Regions from separate parts of the Homo sapiens genome. Here region 1 is linked to region 2. Evidence: fine-mapped expression QTL. A gene starts in region 2. The other region holds a variant in brackets. All regions are shown on one strand. Distances are between the middles of the regions. Region 1 overlaps ROR1 (receptor tyrosine kinase like orphan receptor 1). Region 2 holds the start of ROR1 (receptor tyrosine kinase like orphan receptor 1).

What was found.
Region 1: its variant is fine-mapped to the expression of ROR1 in cerebellar hemisphere (GTEx, PIP above 0.99). The same link has a PIP of 0.9 or more in cerebellum.

What each region holds. Positions count from the first base shown.
Region 1 is chr1:63,914,400-63,919,775 of GRCh38, reverse strand. The region is part of intron 1 of ROR1 (receptor tyrosine kinase like orphan receptor 1); the gene reads right to left. Among named protein-coding and RNA genes, the nearest start is that of ROR1, 140 kb to the right of the region's middle. RefSeq lists a silencer at 1,645-1,714. The variant G/T (reference allele first, on the strand shown) is at 2,058.
Region 2 is chr1:63,771,360-63,776,735 of GRCh38, reverse strand. ROR1 (receptor tyrosine kinase like orphan receptor 1) reads right to left here and starts at 2,719. Exons shown (of 9, transcript NM_005012.4): 1 at 2,228-2,719. The coding sequence starts at 2,318. RefSeq lists an enhancer at 1,095-1,658 and silencers at 1,524-1,818, 2,603-2,652.

The DNA.
Region 1 (5,376 bases), 140 kb before region 2:
GTGCTAAATGCTTTAGGTGCATTAATCATGACAGCATGATGACGGCGGCACTATTATGATCCCCAATTGAACAAAGAAACAGGCTCTGGAAGAGTAATTTACTCAAGGTCAGAAAGACAGGAAGTAGCAAGGCCAATGGAAACCAATATCTCGTCTTCCAAAAGAACCCAGATGCTTACCCATTATGCTCTGCTGTCTCTGTGTAAGTTTCCTCTATCTTGCTGAAACAATAAAAAGATTATCTAATAAATTAATATAGTTATCTAGTGCAAAAAAAAAAAAAAAAAGCCAATTCAATGAACACTGCTCATAGGAAAACTCTACCTTTAGGGGAATTCAGCCCAGGCTATAAAACACATTCTCTGGGCTGATTTTTGGCATAAAATGTCAAGGACAAAATAAATTTTTTGCTGATTAAAAGAAAAACCTCTCGGTAGCGGCCATTAAATTTTACAGCTGAAGAAAGAGGGCATTCATCGGCATTGGCTCTTTTTGGTCCTTAATCATAATGCCTAAGCTCCTATTAGTTTTAGAAAAACAAAAAGGAATTTTTTTCTCAATGTGTCAATATAATGCACTCCTTCCCAAAACAATGTTAAATAAAAATGAGGCATTTTTTTAAAATGCTTGAAGAGAACCAGTCCTACCCTTTGACCCTGTGCATTGAACCATCATTTCAAAGATGTTTCAAAGCATTTTAGTCCTGTTATTTACCCTCTAGATATTCCTGTCTTTTGGAAGATTTGTCAGTTTTTTAGAAAATCTCAAGATATGCATTAACATTCATTAATACTGAACTTTCAAGGCTAACTGGTTTTATTTGCTTAGCAAACTTATCTTTTTAAAAAGATGAATGGTTAAAGGTATTTCCTCATGCTGGTCATTGTCTCGCGGAGACAGCACTGCCCACCGATTTTGGGACCCAGATGAGGTCTCAGGACACTCTTCAGAGCCTAGGGCTAGCTATGGAACTGTTCCACGCACTCAGCCTCATGCCTCACTACTTGTGTGGGCAGCATTTGGCCCTCTCTCTATTTACACAAACTCCCTAACGGTCTCTGGCACCACTGACGTCTCAGAGGGAGGCACAGTATATAGAGTGTTTCACAAGAAAATTTTTAAACAAAAGGAATTAAAGAAAAGCCCTGTTTAATAGTAAGTTTTTACCAAGCTCCTAAATTCTCGAGAGCATGTGAAATATTAACTTTCCCCAAATGGGAGCACAGAGCTTGCCTTGTTTCAATTCATAGTGTTGGGTCACAAACGCTCTAGAGAGTACCACGCCCCGTTCTTAAGAACCTACTGAGATTCTTCATAAAGAGTGGTTTAAAAAGCAAAGGGTCTGGGCTCAGACAGACCTGCGTTCAAATTCTGGTTTTGACACTTTCCAAGTCTCAGGTACTTCATCTATAAGGTGGAGATCATAGTGGTAACTACTTCATTGCTTTGTTGTGAGATTCCTGTCGTATGATGTGCTGCTCATACCAAGCATTCAGTGCGTCGTGCTGGGTGGAATATAGTCAGCCTTCCACTATTCTGACTCAGGGAGGGACGCTTTGGCAGAAAGTACAACATGGTGAATCTCTAACATAAATTCCTAAAACTTCTCCTGTTCCAGGCACCCAAACGCAATCTGGGTCTAGCTTGGTTTACGGCAGGTGCCGGGGCACCCGAGTCAGGGCTAACAACAAGCATGGCCTCAAGGGGGCACTAGACAAGAGTCTGCGAGATGGCAGGTAGTGGTGACTCCTCACTTTGGAACAACAGTTGTCTCCCCAGAGCTGGCTTTCTCATCCTCTCTGCCCATCACTAGGATGGGAGAGCAGCATTAAGAAATTAGCCACCACCCTACTGCCTTCAGAAGCTCCTAGATAATCCCAAGACAGCCATTTTGCTCACCCACATCACTGAGCCTGCAGAGGCCCTGTCATTATGCCACGTGCTTTCCACAAAACAACATTTGCCTCCACCAGGGGCAGGTGGCAACTCCTTAACTGTCCAATACTTTCCCCTCTACCAACCACAGTCATTTCCTGTGGCCAGGGCTCTCCCCACGT[G/T]GTCTGCAGCTCCATCTGCCACATCTCCATTTTCCTGGACAGTCACTCTTGATTTCTCATCATATACTCCTTTTGGATAAAGTAAAATGCTGATTGAGAAGCAAAAATGATTTAATTTTTTATAATTTTGCATCGGTTTCCATGAAACAATAGATCATACAAATCTGATTTGAGTCTAGCAATAGGGGATTGGTTGAATAAAATGATGGCAAATTAAATTTAGTGGATGCTTAATCCTGTTTACCATACTATTAAGGGAAAATCATATTATTTTATAGAATAGAAAAAAAATTTTAAAGTATATGCCAAAAAATGGAAAGTGGCTTTTCTTTGGTTGTAGAACTGTGATTGCTTTTTTTCTTCCTGTTTGCTTATTTGCATCTTCTGATGTATCTGTGATACATTTAATAATTAATTTCTTAAACAAATACCCTTTGAGTACCTGCCAGGTGTCAGGCTTAGACTGAGTGCCAGAATTACCCTCATGGAATTCACAGTCCAGTGGAAGAGGAGACATTCATCAGGTAATCACACAAATGTATAATTATAAACTGGGACAGGAGCCACAGGGAAAGTATGGTGCCCAGTGACCAATGTAAGAGGTCACCTGATGTCTTCTGCTGTGAGGTTGGGTTCAGGGACAGTGTCCGTAAAGAAATAATATGTAATGTTGACTTAAGGAAAGAAGAATTGAAAGCTGAAGGGGAAGGGAGCAGAAGGGCTCACACGCAGAGGACAGCAAAGGCCCTGAGGCTGGACCCTGCACAGTAACAGTCTAGGAACTGAAAGTAGGCCTGAGCAACTGCAGAGAGAATGGTGAGACTTGAGCAAAAGGTAGGCCAGGGCTTTATAGGAGAAATTGAGGGTTTTGCTCTTTACCCTTAATGCAGTGAGTAACTTCAATGCAGGAGAGTAAAATGATCCACTTTAGCCATGAGATCACTGGCACCCTGGGCCACTGTCTCACTTCCCCCTACTCTGTCAATAGCCAAGGAGTCTCAGATGCAGGCCAGGTGGAAGCAGAGGTCTCACATCAGGAGGTGGGACCTTTGAGCTGATCAGAGCACTATGTTGTCTCTAAGGACTGTTCAGGAACAAAGTGTACAGTCTATGCCTGGGCAAAGGCAAATTACACTGGCACAATGTTCAAAACTCTATTTTATCTCAAAACCTGTAACCAGTGCTTCAGAGAACAAATGGCAGGTGTATTTACATTAAACATGAAACTCATTCAATCTTGTATTTGTGAAGCATGGGGCTCTTTTATTCCTGGTTTCACAGGGGTTTTGTAGTCTGTTATCTCCTATTACCATGTTATTAGGCTTTTCCTCAATCCCTACCACTCCCTTAACCCCTACTCCTTTCAAACTTTCTCCACAAGTATGTGCCACTTGGTTTTCCACCTTGATGAGCCCTTCTTGAGAAGGCGCCTGGCCCGATGAATGCTCTTTGTATCCTCTTGCCTTCAACAATGGTAGCCAGATCAGATGGATCATTTTGCAGTTATTGTTCATGCGAAGAGGAAACTTACAAAAATCTGCAAGGGCTGCCTATTCCTTAAATGACCTCAGAGCCAGAGGATATTTCAAGGGAAGAAAAATAGGGTAGAAATGTTTGTTTTCAGCTATAAGCTTTGGGAGTAGCATAAATAGCATGTTCTGGAGGTCAAGTATGTATAGGGATAAAACAACTGAACCATTCTAGAGTGTCTAGAGAGGTGCCAGGAACAGATTCATGTTTCCCAGAGGGACACTGCAGTGGCCCAGGGGAAAGTTTACATGTATACTTGTAGATGGGGGATCCCACACAGGAGATACTGGGTCTCCGGAGTGGGAGAATTATTCCCTGGGTAGGACTGATGCATCCATTACAAGATATTTAGTATATTTGGTTCAGGGAGCACCAAGTGCCAATTGTAGCACACCCCCCCGGCTTCACATGCATCCACCCCACCCCACCCCCTGCCAATCTTTCTGGCAAAATCAAAAATGCTTCCAAACCCAGGGAAGCAGTACTACTCTGTGTGAGAAGTTCTGTATAAGCATAGCTATCCCTAAATGCAGGCTAGCAACCATCTCCCATCATAAAAGACCAAGGATAGGGGGCAGAGGGTGGGAGATGTTGTGGGCTCTAAGTCCTTGGTAATAGTCATATGATTAAGATAGCCTTAGTCTCATACCCTTCTCTCCATTGCACTCTTCTTATACTCCACTAAGCATTTATTCATGTAGTTTCTGCCATTCCCTATTCTCTAAGTCTGCTATAAAAACCCTGCCCACTCCTCAAGGTGCAGGGAAGGAAAGCTCTCTCCACAAAGCCTCTTTATTGCTCTCCAAACACTTTTTATGTGCACCCTTCTTAGAGCCTGTATCCCACCTTAGACTATACACCAGGGGGCAGTGACTGCCTTATCTCCATCCCAGATTAGAAGCTTTAACAGCAAAGACCAGGTCTCCCTCACGTCTGCATTGCCCACAGGCCCAGAAAAATGGTGACATGGGTTGAGATGGTGGAGTCAGAACTGGGTTTAATGTAACTTTGCCACTTACTATTTAATGTGACCATGGGCAGCCCACTTCTTAACCTCTTAGAGACTCAGTTTTTGTATGTTTAAAAGAAAGATGACTATAATACCTACCTTCAAATGGTTGTTGTGAGGATTTGATGAGAAAATACCAAGCACGATGTATTCAATAAAGGGTAGCTATGAACACAGTGGTACAGTGCTTTGCAATTAACCACTGACTTTCACACATATTGTCTTGTATGATCCTGTGCCAGTGAACTCAGGAGGCTCTCCCAGACCCCATCTGCTCTCCCAAGCTGTGAGCATCAATTCTAACAGTGTCCATCAGCCAAGGTGCATGGAAGCAACAGAGAAGAGAGACTGATTCTGCCTTGGGGAGAGATGAAGCAGAAATGGGGGTGGAGGGGTACAGATTTAAACCAATTTTTTAAAATGGCTGATTACACTGATCACTTCTGAACTGGTTCTTGAAGGAGGGTTTAGAGTTTGCCAAGCAGAGAAGAGGGTTCCAACGGTCATGTGTACACAAAAGATTTGGTGTTTGGCCAGGTTAATAGAACAATCTGGAAAGATAAATTGGGATCAGACTTTAGACTGCCCAAGAGTCATCCGAAGGGATTTGAACTGTCTTCTTCCTACCTCGACTTACAGGTTCTCAGCTTTGCATAACAGCTCCCAACTCTTCCTCCTGGAGGCCTGCTGATTACCGGCATGAGCTGAAATACTGGGGACAGCCACAGCCTGAACTCAGCAGCACCCTGCAGCATGCTACTTTCTCTCTCCTCCTGCCTT
Region 2 (5,376 bases):
TTATACTCAGAAAAGGAAAGAGAAGCGAAATTAAAGGCAGGTAGCCCGGCACCTAGGAACCAGACCTGAAACCAAGGAACCAGACCCGAAACCAGGCCTGGGCCTGCCTGACCTAAGCCTGGTACTTAAAGATCGACCCCTGACATAACTGGTTATGTTATCTATAGATTCCAGACATTGTATGGAAAGACAGTGTAAAAATCCCTATCCTGTTCTGTTTCGTTCTGATTACCAGTGCATGCAGCCCCCAGTCATGTACCCATCATGACCCTCTCACGTGGACCCCCTTAGAGTTGTGAGCCCTTAAAAGGGACAGGAATTGCTCACTGGGTGTCTGAGGAGTTTTGTCTGTGGCTCCTCCTGCTACAATGGAATAGGCAATACCTTTTTTAAACAACTCTAAAAGGCTGTAAACAGTTAAAGGAGACAGAATTGGGGTGGCTGCTGATAAGAAGGGTGTTTACAGTGAGCAAAATCAATGCAGGGACATGTATTTAAAGGTAAGTGACCCCCACCCCCACAAGGGGCTATGATCTAAAAGCAACTATTGTTGAAAGGTGAAGTACAAAGTAAAGGAGTCCACAGGGGAAATAACTGAATTAACCAAAGCCCCAAGCCAGGAGTCCCACCTTAGTTAAAATCACCCTGCTTATCTCCACCTCAATTTGCTGGGCAACCCAACTTGAGAAGGATGTTTACATTACTTAGGCAGCATGGCCCATTTTTACTTTTCACCCAGGTGTTGTGGCGCAAGGCCAGATGTTTGGCATCACCAAGCAAAACATCTATGTGACCAAGCTGTTTACATTTCATTAGGATTTTTCATCAGGAAGGTGCACTCCCTGCTGATGCACATCTTAATTACAATTAGGAGCTCTATTTACCCCCAGGAGCTTTCAGATTAGCACGACCACATTATAGGATCCGTTTCAGAAATCATCCTCAGAAAATGCTACTCTAGCTTCCAAAAACCATCTCTAAGAAATCAAAATTTCACACAACTTCCTTCCAGAGTGTGTTTTCTACCAAGAAAGTCAGCTAACTTTTAGTAAAAACTAATTCTGCATTCGTAGTCTATGTAGTGAATACATCTTTTTCCTCTCAACTGCTAAGTAGCGCAGAACTTTTTCTTTTCCTAAACACAGTGCTAACTTAAAAATGAAAGATGCATGATAAAAGAGCAGAGATCTATTTATCCGCTCAGGTTTAGGGCTGGGAGTGGGGGAGGGCAGAATCCAAAGGCTCCTCACCCCCTCAAGGGATGCATGTTAAAAGTGAGGCCCGAGACCCCGGAGACTTTAATCAACTTTCCCCCTCCAACCTCCAAAGAATGAATCGGTTGTCTCCACAGGCTCAGCCGGGCTCTTCCCTCTCATTGTGTACCGGCTCAGACGCAGCAAGGACCCCAGCTTCCCGCAGCGAACTAAGACGCTCCGGCTTGCGGTGAAGTCTTTCTCTAACTGTTGCGATTGTCTTTAGAGATTACCAAAATCAAATATGCATTAGATGGCTTTTCCCCCTCTTGTTTGTAACACGCACACACACACGCGCGCGCGCGCGCGTGCACACCCAAAGCACTTTGGAGCCGCAGGCCGCCTCTGACAGCACATTTTGCACAAAGTGGCAGCGGCTGCAGCGGCGCACAAGTTTTGGCCTCTATGATGACTCTCGGGAGGGCCGGAGGGCCGGGGGCGGTGGCGATGCGAGGCCGCCGGAGCCCCAGGAGGACAGGGCTTTTGTTTGCGTCGATCCGCGAGCCGCCTGGGCTCTGGCGAGCACCACTGAAAATCCAAACTCCCTCCTGGACCGCGCCTTCCGGGCCGGCTCGCAACTTGGGGGCAGGATAGACTTGCCTGAACACCGGCTGGGGCGCGCTAGAGGTCCAGGGAGACAAGGGGGGACGCCCTGCACAGAAGTGCCCCGATCACCCCCAGGACCCTCAAACCCCTCCACGCTTCCTGTCAGCGCTGACAATCGCTGCTGCGCACCGAGGAACGAGTCCCTGGGCGCGCCCCGGCCCGCCGCGGGGCTCCGGGGCAAACCCTGGCCTGGCGGGGCTCCGGGGCAAACCCTGGCCTGGCGGCGCCGGCGAGCCCCGTGGCGGGTGGCCGGACGCGCCCCGGAGCCAGCGCGGCGCTTCCTGCGTGTCCCGCGCCCGGCTGGACGGCGGAAGGGTGGCCACGGGTCAGGGGGTCTGGGCGGGCGGGGGCCGGCGGGCGCCTCTTACCTTGGGCAGCAGCCCCGCGTGCGGCCAGCAGCAGCGCGGCCAGCAGCGCCAGGAGCGGCGGGCGCGTCCCGCGGCGGCGCGGCCGGTGCATTCCTCCTCTCGCTGAGGCGGCGGCGGCGGCGGCTCCCAGGCCGCGCGCAGAACATCCACGGGCTCTTCCCGGGCTCCCGGCCGCCTCGTCCCGGCCGCTGGCGCTCGCAGGACGCCGGGGACGTCTGCAAAGCTCTTTGTCCCTCTAACCTGCTCCCTCGCCTCCGCCTGGCCGCCTCTGGATGCCGCGAGCGCGATCCCTTCCCAGCCCTCTGGCTGCAGCCTCGCCTGGGCCGGCGGGTCAGTCCCAGGCTGTCCGGGTCGCACCAGTGGGCGTGAGTCGCCCTGGGTCGGACTCCGAGAACAGCGCACCCTGCGCCCAGGGGCTGCCGTCCCGGGGCTCCCTCGGCGGCGGCGGTGGCGGCTGCTCCAGCTCTCCACGCTCCCTCTCTCGCTCAACTTGTCACTTTCCACCAACTCTCCAGCCCAGCGCCCCAGCCCCGACCAATGGGAGACGCGGCCCAGGCTGGCGACCCAGCGCCCTCTGCTGCAGCCTCTCAACGCCCGCACCCTCCCCGACTTCGCAGAAAGCGGTCGCGGCTCCCGCGTCTCGGGCACGCTCCCTCCCCTCCCCTCCCCCACACTCCTCAAACTCGCCACCGAACCGAGCGCCGGGGACCTTCGAGGCTACTTGACAGAAGGGGAAACCGAGGCTCAGAGAGACTTATCCGGGATCTCAAGCCAGTTCGTGGCTGGACGACAGTAGACCCAGGTTCTAGCAGCCTCAGCTGTGTCACTGTTAGCTGTGTGACTCTGGGTAATGGCACATTTATTGCTATCATACAATTTCCCTTTTGCTTTCTTCTTGGACCCAAGAGTTGAGAGAGTTCTTACACAAGTAATTTATACTTCGCCTTTTTGTCTTTAATTTGTAGTCTCACTGAATTCAATGTCATCTGTACTGCCTCCTGGCAAGATTTATTGAGGATTATCTGTGGTTATTTTTGCCAATGTCCCATGGTTTTTTGAAAGGTGTTTTTGTCTTCCGAATGTGAAGATAGAATACTGTATCGATTTATCTTCTTTGTATTCATTATTTTTTCAGGCCTTCTGAATCTTTGCATGTTTGTTTGTTTGTTTGTTTTTTGTCTAGCTGCTCTGCCATGAGCCAAGGGATCATTAAAGACCTCTACAATGAGTGTGTTTTTGTCCATTTCTCCTGGTTTAACTTTATGGATTTTGTAATTCATAAATACCCATAATGATTTGACTTTCCCTGTAGAGACTGCCTTTGATCATAAAAAGTGGTGAGCGCCTGCTGTTTTCAGGGCTGTGCTCTAGGCTCTGAAGATGCAAGGGTAATAGGACACCTGTCAGTCTTGCTCTGGAGGAACAGGAAGAAGCCCATAGTCTCTCAATAATCACGTGGCCACTTACTAAATACCTCCTGTTTGCCTTGTGTTTTATATGCATTTGCTCACAAATCCTCCATTGACACTAAAAAGAGTCATTAAAAGTATATACTTCTTAGCTGTTTTACATATATTATCCCCATATTACAGTTTTAGAAATTGAAACTCAAAGGGAAAGTAAATGACTTGCCCACAGTCTCACAGACATGGGGTAGCCAAGCCAGCACTCAGGCTGTTTCCACTGAGAGAGTTAAAGCCTGTAACCAGAGCCTGGCACATGATAAGCACTCACTCGGGAGTTGTTGCTGTTGCAGTAGCCTCTAAGAACCCAGCTTTAGGGTTTTAAAATGAACAGTCACTTCATGGAGGGCGAGGACTCTGTCTCAATCATCTAGGTATCTTGCTGGCCTCTAACAGTACCTGGAATGCAATAGGAGCTCAATTAATGAACAAAGGTTAGGTCACCATTTGGAAAATATTAATTTCTCATCATATTTGTTTTATAGGGGTGCATGGAGGAGGGACAAAATTTCATCCATACTCCTTGGCACCAGGAAAAGCAGATCCCTGAGAGCTGAGACATTAGAAGGGGGAAAAAATGCAGCCCAAAGTATGTCCCAGCAGGTCATGGACTCCAGACTCCCAGCCCTTTGCCTTCAGGCAGGTGAATGACTAACCCATGCGGGACAAACAGTCACTTATTCTTCTCCAGGACTTCATGGCAGGAGCTGTGTCGGTAGTTTTCCCCCTTTCTATCGCTCTGACCTGAGGTCAAAAAATGATAGACAGAGAGGCCTTGGGTCAACCAGTTCATTACCTACATTGATCTGTCCCCCAAGTTTCTCTGCCTGAGATCTATTCAATCCTGTCCCAATTATCTCGCTTCTTGCCTGAGGAACTTACTGCACAAGGTTCTCTTGTTGGGAAACAGTCTTTGATGGTCAGTCTTAGTATATCACAGCCCAGAAATCAGAGGATACTCAGTTACACTGCACAGTGCTGGGCAGTCCTCTGTTGTCTACAGTCAATACACACAGTTGTCAGACAAGGAGCCTTTCTCATCCACCCACCCTGCCCCCAGCCCCCACCCTATAACTCCTAGGCCCAGGTATCTTAGGTAACAGACAGCTGCTAGTGCTGAGTATACAGAACTTAATGGCACTTTTATCAGTACTTAAACTTCCAGGAACTTAATCACAGAATCATAGACATAAGGAATGTGAGACCTGGAAAGGGCTTTGGAAATTAACTAGTACACCCCCCTCAACATTTTATACAGGAGACATGTGGGACTTAGGAGAGTGAAACCGCCTTGCCCAAAGCTGGCCAGAGCCAAAACTAGGACCTAGACCTACCAGTCCAGACCTGGGTAAGGACCATCATCAAATCATCCCAGATTCCTTCAGTTTAGCTATAGCACACAAGTTTCCAAAGAAAAGGTTAGCAATGGCCTGGCACGGTTGCTCATGCCTGTAATCCCAACACTTTGGGAGGCCAAGGTGGGTGAATTGCTTGAGATCAGGAGTTCGAGACCGTCCTGGCCAACATGGTGAAACTCCATCTCTACAAAAAAATACAAAATATTAGCCAGACGTGGTGACACACCTGTAATCCCTGCTACTCGGGAGGCTGAGGCATGAGAATTACTTGAGCCTGAGAGGCAGAGGTTGCAGTGAGTGGATATAGCGTCACTGCACTCTAGCCTGG